Regions from separate parts of the Homo sapiens genome. Here regions 2 and 3 are each linked to region 1. Evidence: fine-mapped expression QTL. A gene starts in region 1. Each other region holds a variant in brackets. All regions are shown on one strand. Distances are from middle to middle. Region 1 holds the start of LINC00865 (long intergenic non-protein coding RNA 865). Region 2 overlaps LOC105378424 (a long non-coding RNA gene). Region 3 has its middle 18 kb from the start of LINC00865.

Region 1 (11,238 bases):
GCTTAAGCCAAGTAAGAGAAAATACCACTTCCTCTGGTGGACAGTAAGTCAAGGGAAATATTATGAGTTTAAAAATGTTTTTATATATTCACAAATAAAAGAACCATGATTAAGAGACTCTGAAATGCTTGGAGAAACACTGTTCTTGTTAACATTATAGTTAGGGGCAAATCACCTCCCAAATGAATTGTTGAAGATGCTATTGGCCTGAATGGACCATTGATCCAATCCAGAAAATTATCATTTCTTTTTGTTTTGGCTGGAAGGCTTAGCTTTTAACATTTTGACAACAATTATAGAGAAAGAGCAATATTGCTTATTTAGCATCCTGCTGAATTTCCTTATTGTAGAATTTTCATCTAGAGTTTGGGTAACTCTAAAATGCTTCAGAGGTATTAACAACATTGCAGTCTTCACCAAGTGAGGAAAACCTACAAAAAATGTGTGTGTAGGTGCAATGAAAAATTTTCAAGTCAATGTAAATGTGTTATAAGAGTGGAGAACCTGGAATTTTTAGAAGTAACTCAGCCCTAATACTTTCTGTCAAAATATAGAAGGCCACAGCTTTAGAAAATAAATACAAAACCTCAAACTTCTGTCCCTTTGAAGAATAAGAAAATATGAAACATAAAAATAAAATATCTGGAAAATACAGAGACATTTTGTTTTGCATCTTCATTTTCTTATTATTGACAAATTGAAAATTCCTGTTTTGTATTAAGCACAATGTTTGCTGTCATAAAACGTTTAAGCAGTGTGATCTGGGTTTATTTTTTGGAGTTGCCATCAGGGAGGACAGATTGCTTTTTTAAAAGTTACATTTCATTTTTTAAACCTTGAGCTAAAAAGCCTTTGGAGAATTGGGGGCACTGTCAGTGAGGTGCCTAACTCCTAGGGAATAGAAATAGAATGGCCTGGATGAAATATTTTTGTAAACTTCTCAAAATTCAAAAGTGTAACTATATGAATTTACTTTCTATTTAGTCCAGTGGATAAAAAGTGAAAGTTTGCCTTAAGGTTCAGAGTCTTGTGCTAAATTTGTTCAAAATTTCATGTGAAATAGTTACCAAATGGATACTTCCACCACACTTATCTACTTATGGTATCTGGTATTAAAAATAAAACCAAAGGAAGAAAAAGGCTGCTAATAATGGCAATGAAAACAGCTCATTCATTGGCTTTATTCCTTAGGCAAGGATTTCCAGAGCACCTTGATAGGTCTTAAGGATGTCAGATAGTGGGCATAGAGTGATGAGGAAGACAGGCACCATCCTTACCCTCATGGAGACTCTAGTTTAGTAGGAGAGGCAGGCCAAATGTGCAAAGGCCTGCAGGAGGCAGGAAAGGGACCTAAATTTGTGAAATGGTGTGAATTGATGGGAAGTGTGACAAACCAAAAAGAGAATGCACTGATTAAAGCTTTTCAAAAGAAATACTGTGTGGACCATGGAATGCATCTGTAAGCAGATTAGTCCTACATACCATTTGAAACCTCTACATTAAAGGAATAATTGCACAAATAACCATGCTAACCATGCAGGAAATAAGGACTATAAGGCATAATCCAAGATGTCATGAGAAAGTATAGTCATGATTCCTGACTATAATTCCTGAGGAAGTTGCATTTTACCAGAGACCCGAAAGATTTGATTAGTAGACTTAGTAGGCAGTAGGGACTGGAGACAGAAGATTTAAGGTGAATCTAACAGTAGAGGGCACAGGATATCTGAAACTTCCATGTGATTGGAGCCCAGTGAGTGAGGGGGGGAAGCAGCGAGGGATGAGCTGAAGTTTTAGGAGCCAGACAATGTAAGATTGAATAGGCTATGTTGAGAATTTAAACTTACTCTAAAACTAATGGGAATTTCTTAAAGGATTGTAAAAAAAAGGGAGGATTCGATCATATATATATATATATATATATATACACACATATATATGTATATATACATATATATGTATATATACGTATATATACATATATATATTACAAGCATGTTCTTATTGAGGTGTGGAGAATTCAGCAGAGGAAGAGGTCAAGGTGGGATGTGGATAGAACAGTTAGGAAGCTGTTGCAGCAGTTCAGGTGAAATGGACTGGGCTTTGGTCAGGTGGTTGGCCATTGAAATACAGAGACATTTTATCATTTGGGATTTGGAGTAGCTGTAACTGAAACTCCAAATTACAGTGGCTTGGACAGATATTTATTCCTCTCTCGCATAACTGAAATCTGTACATAGCCTAGAATTCAATTGGTGGCTCCACCATTCTTAGGGACCAGATTCCTTCCATTTTGTCAATACGTGACTTCAACCTCCTCATTGACGGTGGCTGCTTTAATTCCAGTCATGTTGTTTTCATCCCAGACAACGTGAATGATGAAGGGAGGAAAAAAGATACATCCCTTTCCTGTAAGAGAATTTCTAGAAATTATACGTGATGCTTGCAGTTACAGCTCATTGGAAAGCACTCAGTAGCATGGCCCCATGTGATTACAATGGAAGATAGACAATAAAATGTTTACTCTAGGTTACTACAGGTCTAGTTGAAAATCAGGACGTCTATGACTAAGGTTGAAAGGAACAGAAAACGTTGATAAATAGCCAACATCTGTAATACAAGTAGATAAAGTTGAGACTTGTTTTGGAAATAAAGTTAGCAGGATTTGATAACTGATTTAATGGGGGTTGGGTGAGGACAAGAGAAGGAACAAATCTCATTTCTACTTTTCTGAGACAATCAATGGTAGTACCTTTTTGGAAATGAAAAAAATGAAAAAAGGGGCAGGTTTAGGGCAAAGAACAAAAATTAATTAGCTGTTGGGAGCTTCCTCAAAATTATAGAGGGAGCAATTTATCAATTTTTTGTTGTTGTTCCATTCTAGAGATGTTTTATGCCCATATAGGAATGTGGGTGTGCATACCTGATATGTGTGTATACACACATATTTTATTTTTACAAAAATGGTAGGGTTTAATTATACCATTATATACCTAAAATCCTTTACTTGATATATATTGGGGATCTTTCCATATAATTGCATGAAGAAGTGCCTTACTATTTTTAATCATCACAGAGTATTTCATTGTATGGCTTTGCCATAATTTATTTAACCAGTTCTTATCTGTACATTTGTTTCTGTTTTTTTCAGATTATAAAAAATGCTGCAATGAATGTCTACACTTTAAAGTAAAATTGTTGGGTTTAGGGGCACATTATTGAAAATTTTGGCTTGCGTATTTTTTTCATAGAGGTGTCAGCAATTTCTACTCCCACTGGCAATATATCGGGATGCCTGTTTTCCTTTACTCTTGTCAACTCAATGTGTCAAGCTTTCTGATGGTTAAAATAATATTAGATTTTTGTTTTAATTTGCTTTTTCTTAGCAGAAATGAAATAAAACACTTCACATGTTTAAAATGTTTTATTTCTTTTTCTAAACATGTCCTCATTTTTGCTATTGGATTCTTATTTTCTTATTTAATTGAAGGAACTGGTTATACGTTAGATTATCTGTTTTGCAAATATTTTCCTGTTTATCCTTTTTTGTCCTCATAGTAAATTTCTTTCTATAAATTCAACTTATTTACTATGAATAGCTTCTTGTTATTAAGTAGGTTTAATACAGTTACCACGTTGGTTTGCATGCTTTAAACTTTATTCTCCTCTGTAAAATACATCATTTTACAGAAATGAGCTCATACTGAATATATCTTTTAGGTTTCTGCTTTTATTCTCACTTAATAATAAAAATCTTTCTAAGTCATTCATTGTTTTAACAAATTATTTTTAATTGTTTCATACATTATTCTGTCATTTGGAGTTAACAATAATTTACTCAAGCAACCCTCCCGCTGTTGCATAATTAGGTTATTTTCATTTAAAAAAAAACCGATATAAGCTACAGCCATGGTAGTTTCACTATGATAAAGTCCTCAAAGTAAAATTTGGAGGTCATTGTGCAAAAGTACTCTCCTTGTGCTTCAATGCTTCCCGCAGCTAGACCAAGCTCCGCGGGCAGGAGCTGGAGTCCAAGCTAGGGGAAAGAAGGACCTTCCGGGCCCATAAGGCGGGAGGCAAGGAGGGCCCCTGGGCAGCCCCGCGCTTGCGCGCCAATCACGGCCGTTATGGATTTCGATACGTTACCAAACGGTCTCCTACAAAGGCAGAAACCGTTTAAATATTTCAGAAGGATTGATTTTCATTTTGCAAATATAATACTGGTTCATTTTCTTTCTCTTCCTCCATCCATTCTACTATTGAACATAAAACGTGTCAATAGTATTGTAGTTCAGCATGTATCTCAGGATATTAAAAGGGCAGTGTGACTCAGCTAGAAAAGGATGAACTTTCCCCAAAGATAAAGTGACCTATGCGGTAAGTCCTACGGGACTTCATATCCTCATTGGAGAGAGGTTTAGGGTGTTTCTAGTTGTAGCAGGGTTAGTTGCACCTTAGGTTGAAGCAAGATTTTGCTACTGGAAATTAAATATGGTAAAAGGAGGTGCTCTCGGCCGCCAATTTGACAAGGGATGGACCGTGCTGGTTTTGTATCAACTGGCCTAAGCTAGAACTTCATTTCCATTATGTCTCCATATCAGGTTTGGCCAAAAGATATATCTATGCCAGATTTGGGAAGCAGAAGTGAAAGAGTAACCGTTACTCTGTGTAGCTGGTGCGGAAGGAGAGAAGTGTAGATGTACTGCTTGTGGGCTCTAGCTTGTCCTCGCCTGCCTCTGTCTTGACTCCAGCTGGTGTCCTTTTCTGCCTGCCTTGCTGACCAACAGCAGCCCCAAACCCACAGTCAATGCAGAGGCAACAGCCTTCCATGCACTTCTTCGCCAGCTCCTGTTGTGGTCTCACTCTTGCAACTGGATGTTCCCAGTTCTCTATATGTAACCTGTGACTTTTCCTTCACTTGACTACTTCAGGAGAGGTGAATAGAGACTTTTCTCCAATTCTCCACCTTCCAACGGTGGCCTTACTTCCCCGTCTCCTCCCACTATTGTGCAAGGTCTAATTTTTTAATCCTTAGACTATAAACTCTGTGGAGGTAGCCACCTGTTTAGTTTACAGCTATAGTCCCAGCGCCTGGCACCCAGAAGACACTCATTAAATGTTTGAAGAATTATTAAAGCCCCCAATAATTGATAGCCCTTATTATTTATCCAGTACTTAGATTCTCAAATATGAAACACGAACAACTTGGTTTCATTATCTGGCTTAAAAAGCTTATCAGGGAAAAAGTTTTTAAAAATATATTTTGGGCAGCATTTGAGTCATTTCCCGCACCCCCAAACCTATGTCAGTCGATAGGAAGTCTGAAATTGCCTTGAGTTCTGTAGGCAGGACACTTCAGTGGGCTGAAAAGTGTTGGGCTTATACCTCACTGCTCACTGCTCATCATAACTCTTCCCCTCTTTGCTTGGATTTTTTTTCTTAAATATGCCATGGTCAGCAAAATTTTTATTTCCTTTCTTCTGTAAAGTGACTTCTTTAAAAACCCTAATTATCTTATACTACCTAAGTTTTAAATTGTCTGAGAGAAATATTTTCTTTTTGTTTTACCTAAGAGTGTCTTTTCAATTTTCTTTTATTATCTTTTCAAAACCATATCACTCAACCATCTACAGCTTAGTGTGCAGCATTGTGGTATGAATATGTGGCTGGAAAGTCAGGGATTTAAAAGAACTATGAAATATATATTTTGACTTTTGGGGATAATTTTCTGGGAACAGATTTTTAAATACCTCAAGCCTTTTTTATATACTAATATCCTACCAAATATATGCCATTTTAGCAGCTCATAATAGTTATTAATAAAATATTATGGTTGTTATTCTATTGTTTAACTCTTCCCCCATGTCTTCTCATGAAAAGCTCATATACATAATGTATATTGTATTCTTCCATACTGACTATAACATATTGACTGTTCCTGACCCTTCTGTTTAACCAGTTTTAGCATTTTTCACTTTCCTCATTTTCAGTCATTCTTCTCTTTTTGAAGTATTCCCTGTTCACTTCCATCAGGTTGGAATTTCACTTTGGCCTCACAGTCTACTCAATCTCTTTAATGTCCCATGAGCACATCTTTCATGGCATCTAAGTAGGCTACCATGTAATTCAATCATTTTTCACACTTCTTAAATGTTAAAAAAATTAATACATAAACACTTAGAAAAGTAGAAAATTCTTCATTTAATTATATTAACTCTCAACAATCCTTAAAGTTCTTTAATTGTAAATTTCATTAAGGTAACTTAGGTTCTTGTTCATAAAGTCAAAAAGTTGTATGTCATGTAATGCAAATTACACCATTATCCACTCTTCTCCATCTCTGATTCTCACTCTCCAAAGGCAACAACTTTCATCTCTTTTAACTGTTTTTTTTTCTATTGTTTACTGTCACAAGCCTATAATATACCTCTCATACTATTTATTTTTCAGTTTGGTTCTTATCTATTGCCTTTCTTCTACAAAAGATGAGGAGTTGGCTGTCTTACAACTGGGCATGTAGCTTCTTCTTTCATTTCTTAATCTTGCAATATCATATTTTTAAAAATCTTATCAGTGTTTAGTGTTTATTTTGACAATGTAAATATTATTCACAGATGAACTTGTAGTGTATTAGGTTTACTTCTTTTTTGTAGACCTTTGCTTTTGTTTTTCCTTGACTATGCATTGCCTTGATTTTTGTTTAGTTAGTTTTCTAAGTAGTTATTATCAGTTCATTCTGCCAAATTCTGACAAGTCTTAAGTGCCTTTTGATACATTCAAATGAAACTATCCAGTTTCTTTTATTTTCCTTTTTTTCCTGGAGGCCACGGTCCTAGGTACATTGCCTTCATGAGCTCCTTCCTCCATAAAAAATAAAAATTATTTTACAGCCACGTTGGTATAAAGGTAAATATGATCAGGGTGGATTTATTATCATATAGTCACTGTTATTATATTAATTTTATCTCCTAATTTTAAAGGAAATTAAAATGACGACATTTTTGTAAATTCCTAACAGCGTCATGGGCCCTCAAGCACTATGCCTACTCAGCCTAATGGATGAGTCGGCCCTACGGAAGGCATTCTTTGCTTCTGAACCCCTCTTTTCTCCTGTTCCAATCTGGACTACTTATTCTGTAGGCCCTGAGATGTTTTCTTACTGTTATCCTGACAATTCAATTTTTTTCTCTCATATATTGGATCCCCTATTTCTGTGAATATGTGGCTGGTTTTCTTTCTGGTAGTACGCCTTCATTTTGATAGAGTGCATCTTTCAGAAGGCTCTGCTATAGCATGTCTGGAGGTAAATATGAGGCCTTGCATGTGAGATAAATGTTTCAATCTACTCTCATAATTGGTTGTATAGAGGAAGAGTAATCATTTTCTTCAACAGTAAGTTCTTAGTTGAAATGAACTTCTGTAATACAAGACAGATCAACAAGAGAAAAACAGAAGTGTATTAACATGTGTATTTCATACATACACCAGAGACACCCAGGGAATGAGTAGTTCTCAGAATTGGCTTTGAATTCTGGCTGATATAGCATCTTCAATAATGAACAGCAAATTTCTGGAGAGGTAAAGGAAAAGAACTTTAGGAGTGGCAACTTGTGGGAAGGCAAATGCATAGCAAATAAAGGCTAGCTAGTAATGTTTGTTAATGGAGATTTCCCTGGTATCATCTCCAGGTGGTAACAGTTTAAAGTTGTCTTATGTGGTTATCTTTTGGTCTCCCTGGTAGAAGGGAGGCAGAATACTTTTAGTTTTTGTATGTCCTGCTTTTAGGCAAATAGAGGGATGGCAGAGAGCTTCTCTGCATCTGCTTCTTCTTAATTACCTGCAGCTCAATAATCCTTTATATTTTGGAGTAGCACAACAGATAGTTTGGCTGGATATAGAATTCTGGGTTGAAAATTATTCACCTCCTAGATTTTTTAAAACTGCGTACATCATATATGTTCATTGTAAAGAATGAAAAACATATAGAAAGAAGAAAATAAACCAAGCCTGAATGCTGCACCCTAAATTAGCCATCAATATTCTGGGATCCTTATCGATAAGGGGGTCAAATAGTCTGTTTGGAATGTACCCTGTCACTTGCTCCCTGGTTTTCAGAACAGTCTTACTGCCTTTAGGGCGACTCTGGTCCTAAAGTCCAGAGCTTTGCTGAATTGACATCTCTGGAGAATAAACCAGTTTACTGCCAGTGGGGAGTGGATATGGACTGCTAAGTATTGAGACTTCCAGTTCCCCTATTTTTCATCTTACCTGTTCCACCATTGGGCACATGCCACCTCCAATTCAGGGCTTTTGAGGGATTTGCAGCAGAAACTACTCTGTTTATATTTCTGCCACTGCTGGCTTAGGTTTTCGCTTTCTCATCTTTGCTAAAAACTGCTAATAAAACATCTGCATTGTTGCTTCCAAAATTGTATTGCTGTTGTCTCTTTGCCACTTCTATTCATTCTGTGGTTTGACCTTTTAAATTAATATCTTTAGGATCCTTATAGTGAGCTATGGGAGGGAGTAAAGGTATATGTCCATGTTCATTTTCTGATGATTAGTGGGAAGTGTCTCATAACATTCTTGTATACATTTATTTTTTATTTTTTTGAGATGGAGTCTGACTGTCACCCAGGCTGGAGTGCAGTGGCCCAATCTCTGCTCACTGCAACCTCTGCCTCCCGGGTGCAGGCAATTCTCATCCCTCAGTCTCCTGAGTAGCTAGAATTACATGGACACCACCCTGCCCAGCTAATTTTTGTATCTTTAGTAGAGATGTGTTTCTCCATGTTGGCCAGGCTTGTCTCAAACTCCTGACCTCATATACCTTGACCTCCCAACATGCTGGGACTATAGGCTTGAGCCACCGTGTCTGGCCTTATATACATTTTTATACACTATTTTAGTGCTCTAGAATCCTTAGGGCAAAGTAACTATGTGTGTGGTATGTCTGTGTTAAGGATAAGATGGTATCAGCCCTAGAGTCTGATGCATAGTTGAGCCTTAATTTTATGCTATTACTATATTTATTTAATCAAAAACTTATCTTCCTTACTCCTTTTCCTCACATATAAGTAGCTTAAGTGTTAAAATATATTCTTTCTTCACACAATGACATTAAATCTATGTCAAAACAATTACCTTTCCAGGAACAAATAGAACCTGTCTTGCTTGGAACTTAAAAATAATTTTTCAAAATCCAGCAGAACATCTCTCCTTTTTGTAAAGCATGATTATGTCCTACCTACACACATTAGGAGAAACTATACCTTAAAAATATAGAAAATTTATGTTGGGGTGTGGCGATTCATGCCTGTAATCCCAGCACTTTGGGAGGCCTAGGCGGGCAGATCACTTGAAGCCAGGAGTTCAAGATCCACTGACTAACATCATGAAACCCCATCTCTACCAAAAATACAAAAATTAGCTGGGCGTGGTGGCACATGCCTGTAATCCTAGCTACTTGGGAGGCTGAGGCATGAGAATCACTTGAATCTGGGAGGTGGAGGTTGCAGTGAGCCAAGATCATGCCATTGTACTCTAGCCTGGGTGATAGAGCAAGACTGTATCTCAAAAAAAAAAAAAAGAAACAAACAAACAACAACAACAAAAAACAAAAAAACTGTATATATAGAAATTTAAAATATAAAAATTTATCATAGCTGTAGACATAAAAGTTATAAAAATAAATCTACAATCATTTCAGTTTTTATTAACTCATTTACTTCTGATACTAATTAAAAATCTCTCATATAAGTCCATTTATAAGTCCAAATAGAATAAACAAATGTTAAGTATCAATAATATTTAAATTTTTTTTTTATTCCAGACTCTGTTGGGTACAAGTGACACAGAAAGTCATCTCAAACTAGCTGAAACACAAAAGGTAATTTATTTGTTTCAATACCTGGAAATTCCAAGAGTTTTTTTTAGCTCTAGTTATAGCTGGATCAAGATGAGTGTCAAATGATATAATGATATTGTCAGTGTTTGAGTGTCTTATCTATCATGTGTCTATCCATACATATCTATACCTACATATATACATATATCACACACGTTTTATAAAAAATTTATCATGTCGACAATAATATTTAAACAAATACCCAAATAAATATTAATCATTGAGTTTTCTCAGAAGGCTAAATCACTTACAAACAAAATGGAACATTTTTATATTTTTATAATTTCCTTCTGGTACTGTGGATCACAGCCACAGAAGGAAATCAGTCTAGTAATATTATAGATAGGACATTCACTGGTCCCAATCTGATTTACATTTTCTTATGGACATTTGTGAATTTTTAGCTCTGCTTAGCATCTAAAATCCAGTGTATGTTTGGAATCTTTTTCAACATTATTAGCCATAGTGTGGAGGAGAGACTGCCTCACCCAATGGGAGATGAAAATGCCAAACTCTTGCTTGCCTAGACTCCCTTGGAGCTAGGACATGACCAAGTGAGGTACATTCCACTAATCAGATTCAGCCATGGAAGCAGGAACCAGTAACTCAAAGAAGCAGGGACTGAGAGCCTCCATTCAGACTGAATTCCTAGTGCAGCTGTGGCAGCAGAGCTAGAGGCAGTGTCACAGTGCAGTAGTGGAGGGGTTGGTGGTGCAGGCTGTAGAGTCTTTTGCTTGTTAGTGTTGGTAGGGATGTCAACATTAGGTGAGCTGTGTCATGTCTTGGTGAGCCTGTGTTTCATAGAACCTGGCTCTTCATACATGCTGGCAATGTAATCCACCCAATATCATTATCACAAACACCTTTCCCATTGAAATTAACCTGAGTTGGTTTCTGTTGCTTGCAGCTGATGAATGGATGACCTTCTCTTCCTCTATGTCATCTCCTTTAGTTATGTATTTATTAACTTAAATCTCATATTACTCTCTTTGGCCTCTGCTACCTGAATCTTCTGGTATCAGCTGAAGAGGGAGTCTGGGAGGCACAGAACTGGAAGTAAGGCCATACTGGGCCTGGGAGGCAGAGAGAGTCCTACTGGAGGGCCCTCAGAAAGTGAATTCAGCAGGCACCAGCCTCCAGCCACAGGGTCCTATGCCCACACTTGCTTCCACAAGCCTGGTCCAGGCCACCATCATGTCGCCTGGACCATGGCCGTATTTCCTAGGGTCTGCCTACTCCTGTCCTTGTCCCTGTAAACACTTTATCAAACACAGGGATATTGTTAAAACATAATCAGATCATGTCAATTCTCTGTGAAAACCTCATTCTCT
Region 2 (7,084 bases), 9.9 kb before region 1:
TTAGGAGAAGTTAGTTTTCTAAATGTTCTCCCCTTAGCTCACCACTCAAAACTCCATAAAGTTTTCTGAACACAGTAGCAAGAGTGATCTTTTAAAATATAAGTCAGAGCATGTTGTTTCTCTGTTCAAAATCCAGTTACACTAAAAGTAAAAGCTAAGGGGCTTACAATGGCCCACTGACACCCATCCTCATTGTTCTCCTTACCTCCCTGACCTCATCTTCTAGTGTCCCCATCTCTTTCCCAGCTACACGGGCCTCTCGCTTCTTCCCCAGTGCCAGTAGTGCCCTGGCCGTGAGTCTTTACCCTCACCATATCCTTTGCATTTCTTTACACCCAACATGTATACCTGGCCCAATCTCCCACCTTCTTTGTAACTTTTCTAGAATGTTACTTTCTCAATAAGGCTTACTGGGACCACCCACTTAATTTTGCCAACTACCTTCACACCTGCATTAATCCGTTTTCATGCTGCTGATAAAGACATACTCAAGATTGTGTAATTTATAAAGAAAAAGAGGTTTGATGGACCCACAGTTCCACGTGGCTGGGGAGGCCTCACAATCATGGCAGAAGGTGAAAGGCACATCTTACATGGTGGCAGGGAAGAGAGAGAATATGTGCAGGGGAACTCCCCTTTATAAAACCATCAGATCTTGTAAGACTTATTCACTGTCACAAGAATAGCATGGGAAAGACGTGATCTTATGATTCAATTACCTCCCATAGGGTCCCTCAAATGACACGTGGGAATTATCAGAGCTACAATTCAAGATGAGATTTAGATGGGGACACAGCCAAACCATATCATTCTGCCCTGGCCCCTCCCAAATCTCATGTCCTCGCATTTCAAAACCAATTATGCCTTCCCAACAGTCCCCCAAAGTCTTAACACATTTCAGCATTAACTCAAAAGTCCAAAGTCTCATCTGAGACAAGGCAAGTCCCTTCCACTTATGAGCCTGTAACATCAACAGCAAGTTAGTTACTTCCTAGATACAAGGGGGTACAGGCATTGGGTAAATATAGCTGTTCCAAATGGGAGAAACTGGCCAAAATGAAGTGGTTACTGGCCCCATGCAGATCTGAAATACAGCAGGGCAGTCAAATCTTAAAGCTCCAAAATGATCTCCTTTGACTCCATGTCTCACATCCAGGTCATGCTGATGCAAGAGGTGGACTTCCATAGTCTTGGGCACCTCTGCCCTCGTGGCTTTGCAGGTTATAGCCTCCCTCCTGGCTGCTTTCACAGGCTGATGTTGTCTGCAACTTTTCCCTGGGCATGGTGCAAGCTGTTGATGGATCTACCATTCTTGGGTCTGAAGGACCGTGGCCCTCTTCTCACAGCTCCACTAGACAGTGCCCCACTGGGGATTCTGTGTGGGGGCTCCAACCCCACATTTCTTTTCTGCACTGCCCTAGCAAAGGTTCTCCGTGAGGGCCCCACCCTGCAGCAAACTTCTGCCTTGGCATCTAGGCATTTCCATACATCTTCTGAAATCAGGCGGAAGTTCCCAAACTTCAATTCTTGACTTCTGTGTGCCCACAGGCTCAACACCACATGGAAGCTGCCAAGGCTTGGGGCTTTCACCCTCTGAAGGCCATGGCCCCTTTTAGCCATGGCTAGAGCAGCTTGGATGCAGGGCACCAAGTCCCTAGGCTGCACACAGCAGGGGGTCCTCGGCCTGGCCCCCAAAACCATTTTTTCCTCCTAGGCCTCTGGACCTGTGATGGGAAGGGCTGCCACAAAGGTGTCTGACATGCCCTGGAGACATTTTCCCCATTGTCTTGGTGATTAACATTTGGCTCCTCGTTACTTATGCAAATTTCTGCAGCTGGCTTGAATTTCTCCTCAGAAAATTTTTTTTTTTTCTATCACATCATCAGGCTGCAACTTTTCCAAACTTTTATGCTCTGTGTTTCTTTTAAAACTGAATGCTTTAAATAGCACCCAAATCACCTCTTGAATTCTTTGCCACTTAGAAATTTCTTCCACCAGATACCCTAAATTATCTCTCTTAAATTCAAAGTTCCACAGATCTCTAGGGCAGGGGCAAAATTCCACCAGTCTCTTTGATAAAACATAGCAAGAGTTACCTTTACTCCAGTTCTCAACAAGTTCCTCACCTCCATCTGAGACCACCTCAGCCTAGATTTCATTGACTATATCATTATCAGCATTTTGGTCAAAGCCATTCAACAAGTCTCTAGGAAGTTCCAAACTTTCCCACATTTTCCTGTCTTCTTCTGAGCCCTCCAAACTGTTCCAACCTCTGCCTGTTACCCAGTTCCAAAGTCACTTCCACATTTTGGGGTATCTTTACAGCAGTACCCCACTACCTGGTACCAATTTACTGTATTAGTCTGTTCTCATGCTGCTAATAGAGACATACCACAGACTGGGTAATTTATAAAGGGAAGAGGCTTAATTCGCTCACAGTTCCATGTGGCTGGGGAGGCCTCAAAATCATGGCAGAAGGTGAAAGGCACATCTTACGTGGCGTCAGGGAAGAGAGAGAATTTGTGCAGGGGAACTCTTCTTTACATAATTATCAGATCTCGTGAGACTTATTCACTGTCATGAGAACAGCAAGGGAAAGACCTGACCCCATGATTCAATTACCTCCCACTGGGTCCCTCCCACAACATGTGGAAATTATGGAAGCTACAATTCAAGATGAGATTTGAGTGGGGACACTGCCAAGCCATATCAACACCCCACCTTTAATCTCCCTTGCTTTTTGTTTTTTGTTTTTTCCAGAACACCTAAATATTTTTAACATATATCATTTCATGGCTCCTATTTCAAGTGGGGTGGTTACTGGGGATAGTCATTCACTTATACATTCATTCATTCACACATTTTTTCAAATATGTAGTAGGTACCTACTAGTCAGGCTCTAGTGATATAGAGATGAATACATTGTGATTCCTATCATAAAAAATGTTTTATTCTGGTTGTTAAGAAGTATATAAACAGGCCATGGGTGGTGGCTCATTCCTGTAATCCCAGCACTTTGGGAGGCTAAGGCAGGAGGATAACTTGAGCCCAGGAGTTTGAGATCAGCCTCGGCAACATAGTGAGACTCCATCTCTACAAAAACTAATAAAAGAATCAGGCAGGCATGGTGGCCTATGCCTATAGTCCAGCTACTTGGGAGGCTGAGGTGGGAGGATCACTTAAGCCTAGGAGGTCAAGGCTGCAATGAGCCATGATCACGCCACTGTACTCCAGCCTGGCAGCCAGGGTGACAGATCCTGTCTCTCT[T/TA]AAAAAAAAAAAAAAAAGAAAAAGAAAAGTGTGTGGTCTGGGTGCGGTGGCTCATGCCTGTAATCCCAGCACTTTGGGAGGCTGAGGCAGGGGATCACATGAAGCCAGGAGTTCAAGACCACCTGGTCAATGTGGCAAAACCCCATCTCTAGTAAAAATACAAAAATTAGCCAGGTGTGGTGGTGCCTGCCTGTAGTCCCAGCTGCTTGGGAGGGTGAGGCAGGAGAATCACTTGAACCTGAGAGGTGGAGGTAGCAGTGAGCTGAGATCACATCACTGTACATCAGCCTGGGCGACAGAGTGAGACCTTGTTTAAAAAACAAACAAACAAACAAACAAACAAACAAAAAACTCTGAACAGGTAATTAGAGTCTGAGAAGTTTCCATTGTAGTGGAGATAGCAGAAAAGGCTCTGTACAAGAGTAGCTCTTGAGTATTCCTTAGTGAATACTGAAGAATTAACGAACACCAAATTTAGCACAGGTAGAAACTGAGCCAAAGAGTGTTTGTTTCCATTCATGTATATTAAAAGTCTTAAGTTCATGCAAAGCCTCCCAAAGTTTCTATAAAACAATGCTTGAAACCTCATTCCAAAAGAGGCAACATTCTTAAATGGACATATCTTCATGCTGAAGTCTTCAGAATTCTGAAACCTCATCTACTAAACTAAAAGCTGACATTATTTGAAATAAATACTCTTGTTGAAACTTGGGTTTGAAATATTCTGTTGCATCCCAGATCTGTTGATCATCTGTTGTGCCTGAATTTCTGTAGGGACAATATTTAACCTTTGTGTTAAGTGGTTCTTAAATGGCACTGTGAGGAGGGTAGTGTCACATCAGCACACTACAAAGTGCCTCTGTATCCCCGGTGACATTTTGTTCTTTGTGAGACCTCTGAAGTATTGCTTAATGGCAATTGTTGTCATCATAGGATGGGTAAAGGTATCTTGTCACAGATTTAGAACTGGCTTAGAGACAGGAAACAAAGTGAATCAGTAGAAATGCACATTTGTTTGGAAGGAAAAGGGTAAACACAGTGGGGTTCCTCAGGGATTGGTCTGGCTCAATCTTATTTAAAACATTTATAAATGATCCAGAGAAGGGCTCACACAGTGAAATCTCCAAAGTCTGCAGCTAATGCTGAACTACTCTGGATATGGAAAAGCTAAGTGGATGAGTACCAATGCAGGGAAAATTTAGGAGGCTGTTCTAATATGTAGGAAAGCAGTAAACATAGACTTTTATTTTTTTTTAGAAGAGTTTCACTCTGTCACCCAGGCTGGAGTGCAATGGCGCAGTCTTTACTCACTGCAACCTCCACCTCCCGGGTTCAAGTGATTCTGATTCCTCAGTCTCCCAAGTAGCTAGAAATACAGGCACGTGCCACCACTCCTGGCTAATTTTTGTATTTTTAGTAGAGACGGGGTTTTACCATGTTGGCCAGGCTGGTCTCGAACTCCTGACCTCAGGTGATCTGCTGCCTGGGCATCCCAAAGTGCTGGGATTACAGGCATGAGTCACTGTGCCTGGACGACATGGACCTCTTAAGTGTGGACATGTGCAGTGTAATGCATTTAGAACAGAAAAATTCAAAATATTTTAAAAGGATGATTCTAAAATATGACACAGGAAAAAGACTCCAGGGTGGAGCAAATCTGCCGTCACAGAGATTCGCCAATGTAATTGTTTTCTCCGTGAAGACAGAAAACCATGATAATCAGTATGACATTAGATTTTCCAAAACTTCAGCTCTTGGCCATGCATTCATTAAATTCATATAATTGAATTAAATTAAATTCATATAATTTATATGTTTATTAAATTAAACTCATATAATTAAAATTTATATAACTAAATAAATATATAATATAAGTAAGTTCATATAATTTATATGTTTGGAGAGCACCTACTATACAGGACAGCTTGGGCACTGTGATAGATACTGAAGAAGCCTCCAAGGGACATGACCTGAGAAGTAGGCAGTGAGAGTGATGGGAGGAGACAAGTGAGGGTCTTTGACATTTGGGAACCTAGCGGTCAGCCTGGAGTGAGAAGTGGGCAAGGATCTCAGACACTCCTGGGAGCAGCTGCCACCAGGAAACTTCTAGTGATTGTGTCCAGGGAAAGGTTGCCTTTTCTGTTTATTCTAAACCATTTTATCCAGCTAGAAGTGCCTATCATGCTATTGCGTGTTCTTAGTCTCTGTGCTTTATGCTTTACATATTTAATTTGGATAATGTTGCACTTTATCTGAGCCTTGTGTTTCTGGAAAGCAGCACCTGTTGAGAATTTTGCCCATTCTTTTGTATCCCGGGAAATGGTTAACTGCAAAAGAATACCTTGTCCTCGCATCTTGCCAAGGTAGGAACTGTCTCCATCCCTCCTCATGATTCAAGGATAGCTTCTTTGTCTACCCAACTCTATAAAAGCCCAGAACCCCTTCCCTTTCTTTCACAAAATGAACATTCTCCTCATTGCAACAGCCTAAATAAAATCATCTCCTTAATTGTCTGGTGAATTTTGTTTTTCACAATTTCAAGTAATCAATTATAATAGAATATTTATTTGATCACTTATACTTTGTGCTTTTGCCATCAGGCACTGTGCTGGGCTGCAGATGTAAAGCACTGAGCAAGGCAGACTCTCTCCCGGCCCCCCAGCTCACAGGCTAGTAGGAGCATCAGATGATCAAACAAGGAATTATGAAACAGTGGATTGACTGTTGTGATAGGTATACAGGTGAAGTAAATGAATTACTGATTGTAAAAAAAAAAAAGAATTTAACCCAGTATTGAAAAATGCAGTGTTTGAGTTGCCGTTAAATGTTTCTTTGACGTACATCTTGAAATACAGAAATTGCTTTTATTGAGGAACAATAGGACTCATTATATAAGGGCCTGACTCAGCTGTGGGGAGGCTGGGCCATGCTTCTGTTCTGGCTGCTCAGAGGACTCCCAGAATGGCTGGAAAATGGTCACATGGATTCCCTGGTTGAAGGTAGAAAAGGGAAGAATATGACTGACACATAAACCTGAGTTTATCTGAATTTTTGATGTTTGGCACAGGGCACTACGAACTTGCTAATGGTCTATTGAGAAGACAAAATTGCAAGCCAAGGCCTTGGAACAAGAAAGCATTAGAAATATTTTCTTCGATCCTATTTTGTCTGGTGGATTACCATGGCAATGGGCTACTGGGAAGAGACAGTTAGTTCTACTAACACATTATTTTGTATGTGAAAACTTTGCTCAGAATGGTATTTGGTCTAGGACTTTGCCTGACTTCCATAGTGTGGGGAACTTAGTGTTTGAATAACATTGCCTAACAGATTCTGGTGTTCAAGTGTTTTCTAAATTTTAAAACCTTACCTCAGGACCTTGAAATAGGCAATGATATGTGGAGATACAGATCCTGGCTGCTATGAGCACATAAAAATAATAAATATGTTTAAATAATAATGCTTTAAAATAATAACAAATATTTTTTATTATTAAGATGATGAATAAAAATGATTAATATAAAAGTGATCAATTGTAAAAATTCAGAGAAAATAAATAACAAGAATGAAATAGTATTTATTAGTATCTCCTCCCTAACAAGGTAGTTATTATTTTACCCTCATTTTACACATGAATCAGCTAATACTAAGGTTCACCACTCAGGTCCGTTTGACTGCAAAACTCACACTCTGCTATATTGTTTCCAATTCTTGACTGTCATATGAATTCTGGTCACTGCCTTGAAACTGACTACTATAAAAGAGAAGTTGCCCCAAACCTGGTGTGGGAAGGAATCTTTTTACATGATGTAATTTG
Region 3 (11,238 bases), 20 kb before region 1:
ACACACATCAGTGCTTTTCCCCTTAGAGTTAATTAATAGAGAAAATCTTTACATTTATTTATGAACCCACTTTTATAGCCAGGCTTTACTCTGTGTTTTGTTCAATGTTTCTCATGCTAAAACTAATCAATTCCTTGTTCTCTCCCTGTTAACCATCTAAGACCTGCTTTATCTCCATGGCAGTCCCGCTTTTCTCACTTTTAAACCACAGCTGTGCTAGCAGATTTTACTTGACGAATATGACTCATTTTTTCAATTCTATACGTGAAAGGAAAGAAGAGCTATTCATTCCTTTCTCTTTCCTATGTTAGTGTTACTTCAGTCTCTCTCTTAAGAGCAGAAGAGGATGAAACTAACCTCAGCATCACAGCACTTCATGGAGGTTGAAACCTCTGCAATCACTATATAACTGACTATACACCCACACACACACACCCCCCACAGAGACTCTCACACAGTCACATACAGAACTAAAGGAAGGAGAAAAGACTGAGAAAATGTCTGTGTGATGATTGTTACTATTTACATGGCCCAATCCCACTCACACTCACACCTCAGCTCCACTCACACCCCAGCTCCAAGTTGCCAATGATGCTTCCATATGGAGTTGAGTCTAGATCAAGCCCTATGAGGAGGCTAGTTCCTGTCTCTGGCTGTGAGAAGAAAGCTGGGCACTGAGCAGTGTCACTTCAGGAAGTCTCAAGGCTCATTTTATGTTATGATGTAAAAATTCTTTAGTGGAGGAAGAAGAAACTGAATTTTCAGAATGGACTCTGTGAAACCCTAGGATTCTACCTCATTATCTCAGGGGTTATTCTTTGTGGAGAGCAGCAGGCAATGATGCCTGAGGGAAATTGAGCTGGATCATCTTTTCTGCGGGCTAGAAAAGAAGGTATGAAGAGTGCCAGGAGGAAGCGAGGGGCCTTCTGAGGTGAGCACAGGCCTCTAGTCTCTCTCTCCTTTTCCCTTTTCTGAGGGGATCAGGGGACCTGGACCTGGCAGGGGCCCAAGGGAATCTGCCACGAGGCTGTGCATGAATTTGGAGGTTTGGATTGATTCTGCCTGGCACCTGGAACCTTGTGAGTACTGAGCATGGAGGACTGCAGAGGGGTGCACTTGAGAAGATGCAAGAGGGAGAAAAGGGAACAACTGCATCTCCACTGCAGCCCATAGTGGAGACACATGAGCTTGTGTCAGTCCCAGAATGAGCTGTAAAGTGAGTAGAGAGTGGGGACTGTCTTGTCCCGTTACCACTGCCAGAGGCCTGTGCTGTCCGTGGGGCAAGCCGGGATACTCTGACTTTGATAGGGGAGGAAACAGGGCTGCCTCTGGAGGTCATCCATGACAGCTCGTTGAGTGAGAGACAATTAGCAGAGGAACAAACAAGAATCTGATGAATAATGCTCTATCACCTCCGTGCCTCCAGATATTTGGATTTTTCTCCACAACACTATAGACTCGTGGCACTGTAGTGAAGTATAAGGTTTCCTGGACGTTTATAAACAAATGGTTAGGGCTCAGGTGGGTCAAGTGGAAAACTTGGGACTGCATGGTGACTCATAACAAGGATGACAATACTGAAGAAAATGACATTTAAACTTGAAATGATAGAAGGAGAATTACTAGGCTGGGCAGAGTTTTCCACATTGGCTTATATTTAGTTTTGTCATTGCTAAGAATGAACGAGTACTTGTAAAAGAGAAATCAAAATATTTATAAAAATAAAGTGAATGTTATGCTTGCATGTAGACTATTTATGATTATCCAAGTCACATCTGCTATTCTATTTTTTGGATGATAAATGGTGCCCAAAAAAGGAGAGTGATTTCTTTTATAGAAGGGTGGTTTATTCAAGGATTTAGTGTTACTGAGCAGCAGAGTTGTTTCTGGAACTTATTTACTCATTCACTCCATCAGTGCCTTCAGTGGGCAGCCACCAGGAACACACCTGAAGCCAAACAGAATTGGATTTATTGACTTACAGTGAGGGAGAATGAACACCATGGAGAAACACGGCAGAGGAAAGAAATGCTGTAGAGTGGACTTAACAGGTATTGGGCTTGTGAGTGATTTGAGGCAAGTTCAAGGGAGTGGGGCTTTGCTCTTAATTGGATGCTATCTGAAATAAGACATTGCTGTCAAAGACAGCAGATGATGTAGCTCAGGAAACAACTTACAGATCAAATATACTTTGAGGCATCTTCTGCTAACACAAGCAATCAGCTTGAATCAAATACACCCAAGTTAAAAAGAACAGCAGATAATTTACAGCAGATGTAATTTGATGTCATGGTTTCTCCTCATTTTGGGAGGAGAGGCTGGGATGCATTTTAGAAATTTGAACAATGTTTAAATTAAGAATTAGGTTTGACATCTAGCCTCCAACCTTAATATGTCATCACAGAGAGTAAACTATCCAAAACCAAGAGATCCAAACTACTTGTTTTTCCTCTATTTTGCCAATGGAGATGTTTTCTGCCTTTCTTCTCCATGGCCCTTAAAATATAAAAACCTGACAATCTCTGCTCCCTATCAGATTATAGAGTCCAGGACCTAGCCTGCACTGAAAAGAGACTGTTGAAATAAAGGGCTTGTACTTACATTTTATTTTTATTATAATCATGGTTATAATTAAGATTTAGGTTTTTTGGCCAGGCGCAGTGGCTGGTGCCTGCAATCCCAGCACTTTGGGAGGTCGAGGTGGGTGTATCGCTTGAGCCCAGGAGTTTGAGTCCAGCCTGGGCAACATAGTGAGACCTTGTCTTGACCAGACATTTTAAAAGTTAGCCAGACTTCGCGGTGTGCGCCCGTGGTTCCAGCTACTCAGGAGGCTGAGGTGGGAGGATCACCTAAACCTGAGGGGAAGGCTGCAGTGAGCCAGGATCACCCCATTGCACGCCAGCCTGGGTGACAGAGAGACATGTTCTCAAAAAAAAGGTTTATGTTTTCTACTGGGGATAGTAAGAGGGCACGCAGGGCTCCTCTTGGAAAGGCCATTTGCACTATACCTCAGCTCTATGGGGAAGAGGAATACGAAACATCGCAAGAGGACATGGAGACTTTTTCCAGGTTCCTTAGTTGGTATTTGAGTTTGGCTGGAGGAGAATGAGCTCCTTGGAGGCGATGTTAGTAAACCCTAAGTTTCAGAGTTGGAGGACCAAAAGCCTGCCATACAGAAAAACTAGGGAAAGCTTGTGGATGTGGTGTTTTGTGGGTTGGTATAGGCTTATTCCTGGGTAAGCTCTAGGACCCCAGTGAACAATATATAGCTTGAGAACCACAGGCAGACCAACCTACTTCTCCATACATCAGTCAGTTTATAAAGAAGCACCCTTTCTTCATAAGCCTTATTTATCAAAAGCAGGGGAATAATGGGTGGGGGACTCTTTAAGGAAATAACCTCAGGTGCCAAGGAAATATTTCAGAACCCCCTGGAAATGCCCAGCAGCCGAAATAGCTAGGAGGGCAGCTGGGACTGATGAGAGGAGCCTGGCATTGGCAAGAGGAAGATTGCCCATGAGAAAGGCAGTATTGAGTCCCTACCAGAGTCAGAAACCAGCAGGATAAAAATGAGCTGCTTCTGGGAGACAAAGTGGAGAGAGTGCCTGCATGCTGTCCAGCTGTCTGAGAATCCAGATGCTGCTCAGAGGAAGTGAGAGATCCTGAGAGTTCCTGTGACTGAGACTGGGTTTTAAAGATATACCCCCTTTCCTGCTTCATGTTAATTAAACTGAACATGAGCAAGGTGCTGGGACCCTGTGGGGAGACTCAGAGCATGCCCGGTGGAGGAGAAGCTGTTGCTTAGTCAGTGCAGACTGTTTCTAGGGGTTGGAGCTCTGCTCACATCTTTTAACTGTGTAGCCTTGAATGCTCTGCGCATTGAGTTCCTCATTTGTAAAAAGGAATTGTACATTCCTTCTTTCTAGGTTTGATTTGAGGATGAAGGGAGATTGGGCTTTTAAAATAGCTATGACAGGTCCTAACGCATAGATGGTTCTCAATGAATATTGGTTCATTTCTTCTTGCCTGAGCAGAAAGTGACACTTTCTCACTAGGCAACCATCAAGAATGGGGAATTGGACTCAACTTGGAGGGGAAGGGATTTCACACATAACCTTTTATAAAATACTTGCTGTAACACAGATTACAGGGAACAGAGCAGTTCTTTGCAGGAGGCCTACTATTTGGATCAGCTACAACCTTTCAAGCCACAGGACTGAAGACACATTATTCTTAATTATCTAAAGCCAGAAAAAGAAAGAGCTGATTGAGTTAATGGACAATGCTTAGGAATGTGGACACTGGTTTATTAATTATTCTCTACCTCCAAACAGCATTAGAGTCATGTATAACTTAGCATTTCTAAGTCATTGCAGTCAGTCAGTTAAATTGACAAGAGACTTTCAAATTTTATTTAATAGCCTTGTGACTGTTCTTGTTTCCATGGATCTGGGTGGAAGTTGGATGGATGAACACAAAGAAAGCTTAGAAATGATTGAGTAGAAGAAACCAGACCTCTAGGAAGGATTAACGATTTTTGTTTTTGGCCCTGATCCACTATTCTAACATCAAATACACAGCTGTTTATTGAAAGCCACGCTTCTTGCTAGGATGACACGCTCATTCTGGTCCACCTGGAGTTTTCCTGGAGTTGGCATTGAAAGTCCAAAGTTGCAGTAAATCTCTCTGTTTCAGACTCACGGGGATAGTTGGCTGCCCTACTGGAAAGGGCCAAGACAAATTGTAAAGGAAGACACAACTTTGATGAACTCTGGAGCTACAAGCCAGGGACAAGGCTGAGGGAAGCCCAGGTAAGGGTTTAGATAGCAGAAGTGGATCTCCAGAGTCACAAAGTAGAAATCTTCAATTATTGGAGAAATCCAGAAGATGGAGAGGTCACTTAGGCCACTTTCAATAACCAATAAGCAAAATATTCAAATGCCACAAAAACACATAAACAATCAAACAAAATTCATTCCCCATCCTAAGTTTAAATGTGGACTAGGATCAAAGATCTCCCTTGGGACTGGTGGCAGAGTAAATAAATTACCCTCTAAGGAACCAATCTGCAGAGCAGTATTCATCAAAATTACCTGGAGTGTTTATTAAATAATTTTCTGTAACTCACCCCAATCTACCAAACATGATTGCTAGAGGAGAGGACTGGGAATATGTCCTTTTAAAAGGCATCTTGGGTGACTCTAATGTGAAATTTTTTGCTCTAGGATGGTGATCCTCAAACACTTTTGATTATTGAGCCCTAGCAGTAAAAAATTTAAAAAAAGATCTTTAACATATGTATATGTACTTATCTATCTATCTATCTACCTATCTATCTATCTATCATCTATCTATCTATCTATCTATCTGTCTATCTATCTATCTATCTATATTACTCTTACTCACCCTTTAGGTTTTTCATTTAACACCTTTTAGACATGGTAAAATCTGCTTGGTTTATCTTACCGTACTTTGAATCTTTCTTTTCAGAATACACTCCAATCTGCTAGACTGGAGTTTCCTGAGGGCAAGGACTGTGTCTGTTTCATTTACCTTTGTATTCATAACAGCAAAATGCTTGGCCCAATAAAATATTGGTGTGAATTGAATTTAGGATTCCTCTTTAAATGACAGGTAGCTTGTTGTCTGGGGCAGTCCTGGTTAATGCTGGCATTGTTTGTCCAAACTGTTTCACGTTTCCATGGAAACAGAACCAGCAGTTCATGTAGGCACCACTACCTGTCAGTGCCAGGTACCCAAAGAGAGTTTAAAATCCCATTTCCTGGTCTCCAGTTGGTTTTCTCCTGCAGTGCCAGAACTTCTGCTGCAGGCGAAAGGACCCTCCATTGAAAGAGCAGCGGGAGCTGTCACTAAGAGGCTTTCAATCTAGACAAGTAAGAAGAAAAGGAGTGGAGCAGCTTCATGCATCAAACAATACCTCCCCTCAGGTGGCATGATCTTGGGGGAAGCCTCTTTGGACAGGGAGGGAGAGAACAAATCCACTTCATGCTCCCTGGGGCCTTATTGTTGAGTTCCAGCGATTGTTAACATCAATTATGCTGTAACTACTTAATAGCACCTTTGAAAACAGGGATTGCTGGCTTTGGAAAAACCCTGGAGCTTTCTTTATCTCCTGTTGGTGGAAAAGATCAACACTAAAATTAAGATTATAAGTCCAGGAGCAGTTTCATGGTTATATAACTGCTTCCAGGCATGAGAGGTAGATGCTGTACACATTTTAGGTAAATTGAAAAGCTGTGGGATGTTGCAGCTGAAGAGATCCTCAAGATTGTGACCCCCAGTCTGCATCATGGAGGCAGGTGTTGTGAAATGACCAAGCTAATTTCCTCATGTACAACTGTTAGGTCCTTTTTGGGAAATGTCTGTCGTCTCTAAGGATTAGAGGCTGGTGAAGGTTATGGGCCTTCTGCTCACAACTTTCTACTAGGTTATGATGGAAGTAAGTTTCAGGCCAAATTTTGCCATATATAGTGACATTTAGTAGCAAGCAGGCCCCCAGATGATCAGCTCTGATCTTTGAGGTTCTCTGACTATATTTGGTATGCAAGGTCCATGAGAGGAAAATGTGGCAATGTGTAGCTAATGTTATTTTTTTAAAAATTTTTTAATTTGTAACTTGCATAGTTATTTTTTGAAAAATAAAAATTATATGTATTTATTATGTGTAATATGATGTTTTCAAACATGTATATATTGTGGAATGGCTAAATCAGACTAATTAACATATGCATTACATCCACAGACGTCATTTTTAAATGGTGAGAATACTTAAATCTACTGTCTTAGCAATTTTCAAGAATATAATACATTGTTATTAACTATAGTCTCCATGTATATGATAGATCTCTTGAACTTATTCCTCCTAACTGCAATTTTGTACCCTTTGACCAATATATTCCCAATCAAACCCTCCCTTTCCTCAATAACCACCATTCTGTTCTCTCCTTCTTTTTTAGATTCCACATGTAAGTGAGATAATGTATTTATCTCTCTATTCCTAGCTTATTTCACTTAACATGATGTCCTCAGGTTCACCTATGTTGTTGCAAATGACTGGATTTCTTTCTTTTTAAAGGCTGAATTCCATTGTGTATATGTACCACGTTTTCTTTATCCATTTATTTATTAATGGGCATTTAGGTTGAATCCATATCTTGGCTATTATGAATAGTGCTGCAATGAACATGGGAGTACAGATATCTCTCTGATGTATTGATTTCATATTCCATGGATATATACCCAGTAGTGGGATTGCTGGATCATACTATTAGTACTATTTTTAATTGTTTGAGGAACGTTCATACTAGTTTCCATAATTGCTGTATCAATTTACATTCCCACCAACAGCACAAAGGGTTCCCTTTTCTCCACATCCTCACCAACGCTTGTTATCTTTTGTCTTATTGATATTAGCCATTTTAACAGGTGTGAGATCATATTTCATTGTGGTTTTTAATTTGTATTTTGCGATGATTAGTGATGTTGAGTACCTTTTCATACACCATTGGCCATTGGACATTTGTATGTCTTTGTTTAAGAAATGTTTATTCAGTTCCTTTACCTACTTTTAGCCAGTTGTTTCCTTGCTATTGAGTTCCTTATGTATTTTGTATATTAACCCCTTATCAGATATATGGTTTGCAATTTTTTCCCCCATTTTATAGGTTGTCTTTTCATGCTGTTGATTGTTTCCTTGGATGTGCAGAAGCATTTTACTTTGACGAAATTCCATTTGTCATTTTCACTTTTGTTGGCTGTTTGTTGGGGGTCATATCCAAAAAATCACTGCCAAAGCCAGTGTCTTAGAGGTGCCTATGTTTTCTTCCAGTAGTTTTACAATTTTAGGTCTTATGTTTGAGTCTGCAATCCATTTTGAGTTGATTTTTGTATATGGTGTGAGATAAGGGTCTAATTTTATTCTCTGCTTGTGGATATCTAGTTGTCCCAACGTCATTTATTGAAGAGACGGTCTTTTCCCCATTGTGTGTTCTTGGTACCTTTGTCAAAAATAAATTGTCTGTAAATGGGTGGATTCAGCTAACCTTATAGTTGGATAGAGACAGCAAGAATCCCCTGAATCAGTAGCTGTTCTGTCTGCAGTCAAGCATGGGGCACATTCCAAAAGATACAGACTAGTGCTCGTGCTAGATTTTTGGTTTTATCCTACTTGTGCAAAGAACAGAAAGAGCCTTTAAATACTTTAGCCAATGCACACATCTTGAAGACCATTTATCTCACTAGTGAAAAACCATTGCTGATGTAGGGTCTCAGAAAACGAAACCCCAAAATGAAGACCTCAGAAGCAGCT[C/G]TCTCTGACCTCCTGCCCACCTGTCTCTGGCCTCTCATTCTCCCCCGAGGCTAACCATAGAAACTAGAATCCCTCTTCCTTAAGGTGGGTCATAGAAACCAGAACTCTTTGCCCCCAAAGCCAGCCATAAAACCTAAAAATATTGCTCTAACTTCCTTCCTGTATTTTTGTATAAAAATTGGCATAGAGAAATCATCTGAACTACCTTGTTTGCCTGTGGGTCATAAGACCCCCATTCCAGAAAGGGTTCTACCCCACACCCAGAAGGGAGGAATGCTGTACAGAGAGGCCATGAAGCATGTAAACAGACAGGTCTTGCTGGGTTTCCCTGCTCAGTTTTCTAGCATTAGATTATACTCTCTTTGTTCAATCATAATTTCTACCTGCTGTCTGTACTTTGTCGAACCTAAGCATAAAAATGGAAAGTTACTTTGTATCTTTGGGTCTCCTTTCTGAAGGCTATTGTGTCACATAAAATTATAATCAAATAATGGTATGTCTTTCCTCTCATTAATCTCCATTCGTCAGTGATTTTCAGAGAAACTTCACAGGGCAAAGGGGAAGTTTTCTCTTGGCCCTTGCACTAACATTCATCATGTTCTTTATCCCAGGCTATGGGAGAGTGAGGCAGAAGAGCATGACAAGCCAAAGCTGTCTTGTTACGCAGATAAAAATCTCTCTTGTAATCTTGGAGCTGCCCTCAGATGGAATAGACAGAGTCACTGTTTCTCTGTCAGACCTTTAAAAGTGTCAGACCTTCTGAGTTAATCTTCACTAGACCTAGATAAGGGAGATGAAAGGGGCCTCAGAGAAAGCCTGTTTGCTTCTGCTGTTTGTTTCACTAATGTAGATTTTCTCTGCAGATCTTTGAACAGGACAGCTGTTCAAAGCTGTTCCTGTGGCCTGCAGCCTCTCTGACTAGCTATCTAAAAATATGCCAAAGAAGTATATTTTGAGGTAAAATAGTCTGATTTCCTTCGCTGGGATACATTGGGAGAACCCCTTTTTCAAAAATTTCCAGCCACGGACAAGCCACGGATGCTTGAAGTTCCACTGAAGGTAGCTCATTCTTCTGGTCTAGCTTTATTATCAAGCGCAGTCCACTTCAAAAACAAATCAGTGAATAAAATTGAGGCAAAGTGGGGAGAGAGCTCCACAAAGGTGGTCACCTCAAGGGAATTGGAAGGAGAAATTTTTGAAGGGAGTAACAGAAGATGGTTTTTAAACATTTTTGCAGTATTATCTTACCGAAAATTTAACTTCAACCTAGAGAAATCTATAACATCCGACTTTTGCCCACGCACTGGTGTATCCAGTCTACCTTTGTACCTATAGGCCTGTGAATGATGCTCAGCTCCTGGCGGTGGAGAGTCAGTGGCTTCTCCAAAGCTATTCTCAAGCTCCTTGAATCTGCTGATCAGGGTCACAGCACTTCTTGGGTAGGAGCCCATGCCTTGGCTTTTCTGATATGTGGAGGCAGTGAGTACTCCTCTGCAGGGCTGCTATGCTGCTCAGCCCCAGGGACCATGCCCTCTACAGTGCTCAAGGGCTTAAGAGGATGCTGTGCACTTAGAATACACCTGGACGCTGCCCCTCCCTTCCCTGGGAGCTGTTCCTGGCCAGGTTGACACCCTTCTCTTTTCTTTCAAAGGCTGCTTGAACTTTCCTCTCCTCTAGCCACTGGGTGTGTTTCCTGCATAGTCAGGAGTGTGTGGAGAGGCCTGTGCTGTCATAGCTTTCTCTCTCTGTCTCTTTTTTTTTTTGTCACCCAGGCTGGAGTGTAGTGGTGCAACTGTAGTTCACTATGCAGCCTTGAACTCCTGGCTCAAGCGATCCTCCCACCTCAGCCTCAGGAGTAGCTAGTGCACCACCATGCCCCACCATGCCTGGCTAATTTTTAAATTTTTCTGTAGAGAAGGGGTCTCCCTATGTTGCCCAGGCTGGTCTCAAACTCCTGGCCTCAGATGATCCTCCTGCCTTGGCCTCCTAAAAGTGCTAGGAGTATAGGCGTGAGCCACTGTGCCCAGCCCTGTCTTAGCTCTCTTGATCCCTGAAGTGGGGTTTCTTTCTGAACCCCAGGGACACCGTCCAAAGCTGTTTGAGGGGCCAGACTGGGCAAGAATCAAAAAAACAACACATTCTATTCAGGAAAACCCTCTCTGGAGCAGCTTGTTTTCCTCTACCTGGTAAACTTTTACTTATCCTTCATGACCCAGCTCAGGTGTTACCTTCCTCATGACATTTTTGACATTTCCACTGGCAGGGTTACAAGGCGAGGATCGTTCTGTTTTTTTCCGGGCATCCTTAGTGCACTGCTCGTTCTCTATAGAAGGAATAGTCACACTTATTGGTCACATCCTCTGTGTCAGGCATCTTCCCGGTGCTTACATGCATAATCTCATTTCATCAACTCCAGAATGCTCTGAGGTGATGTGATTTTTCAGGTGAGGACACAGCCTCAGGAAGGTCAGTTTGTCTGAGGTTACCCAGCCAGTAAGCAGTAGATCTAGGATTCAAACCCAAGCTAATCTGACTCCAGAAGACACAGACTGCTTTTTCTCTGTGCTACATGGACCCACTGTGGCTTCTGCATCACTCTACATTGTAACCTAGTAGTTGCAGTCAACACAAGACCAGATCTCTGAGGTTAGAAACCATGTTCACTATCTTTGAATCTCCAGAACTTAGCTTGCTGCTTGACCCACACAGAAGACACTGAGTAAATGCCCAAAGTGTCACTAATTAGGAATTCAACTGCATTAAGCGAATACCCAAGGGAAGGGTGTAGTCTGAGAGGGCCTACTAGTCTTCATTGAGTGTGGGATGACTTTCGTGTTGCTAAATCCAACTGCCAATGCTTCATCTCAACTTATTTGACCCATTTGCATTTAGAAACATTGATGGTTCCC

What was found. PIP is the estimated chance that this variant, and not a neighbour inherited with it, causes the effect.
Region 2: its variant is fine-mapped to the expression of LINC00865 in whole blood (INTERVAL, PIP above 0.99).
Region 3: its variant is fine-mapped to the expression of LINC00865 in whole blood (TOPMed, PIP 0.95).

Annotation. Positions count from the first base shown.
Region 1 is chr10:89,825,369-89,836,606 of GRCh38, forward strand. LINC00865 (long intergenic non-protein coding RNA 865) reads left to right here and starts at 4,125. Exons shown (of 4, transcript NR_038382.1): 1 at 4,125-4,377; 2 at 4,602-4,936; 3 at 9,833-9,889. It overlaps LOC105378424 (a long non-coding RNA gene), which reads right to left and starts at 5,453. Exons shown (of 3, transcript XR_946196.3): 1 at 4,664-5,453.
Region 2 is chr10:89,817,511-89,824,594 of GRCh38, forward strand. It overlaps LOC105378424 (a long non-coding RNA gene), which reads right to left. Exons shown (of 3, transcript XR_946196.3): 3 at 6,010-6,256. Among named protein-coding and RNA genes, the nearest start is that of LINC00865, 8.4 kb to the right of the region's middle. The variant T/TA (reference allele first, on the strand shown) is at 3,268.
Region 3 is chr10:89,805,399-89,816,636 of GRCh38, forward strand. No RefSeq gene overlaps it. Among named protein-coding and RNA genes, the nearest start is that of LINC00865, 18 kb to the right of the region's middle. The variant C/G (reference allele first, on the strand shown) is at 8,330.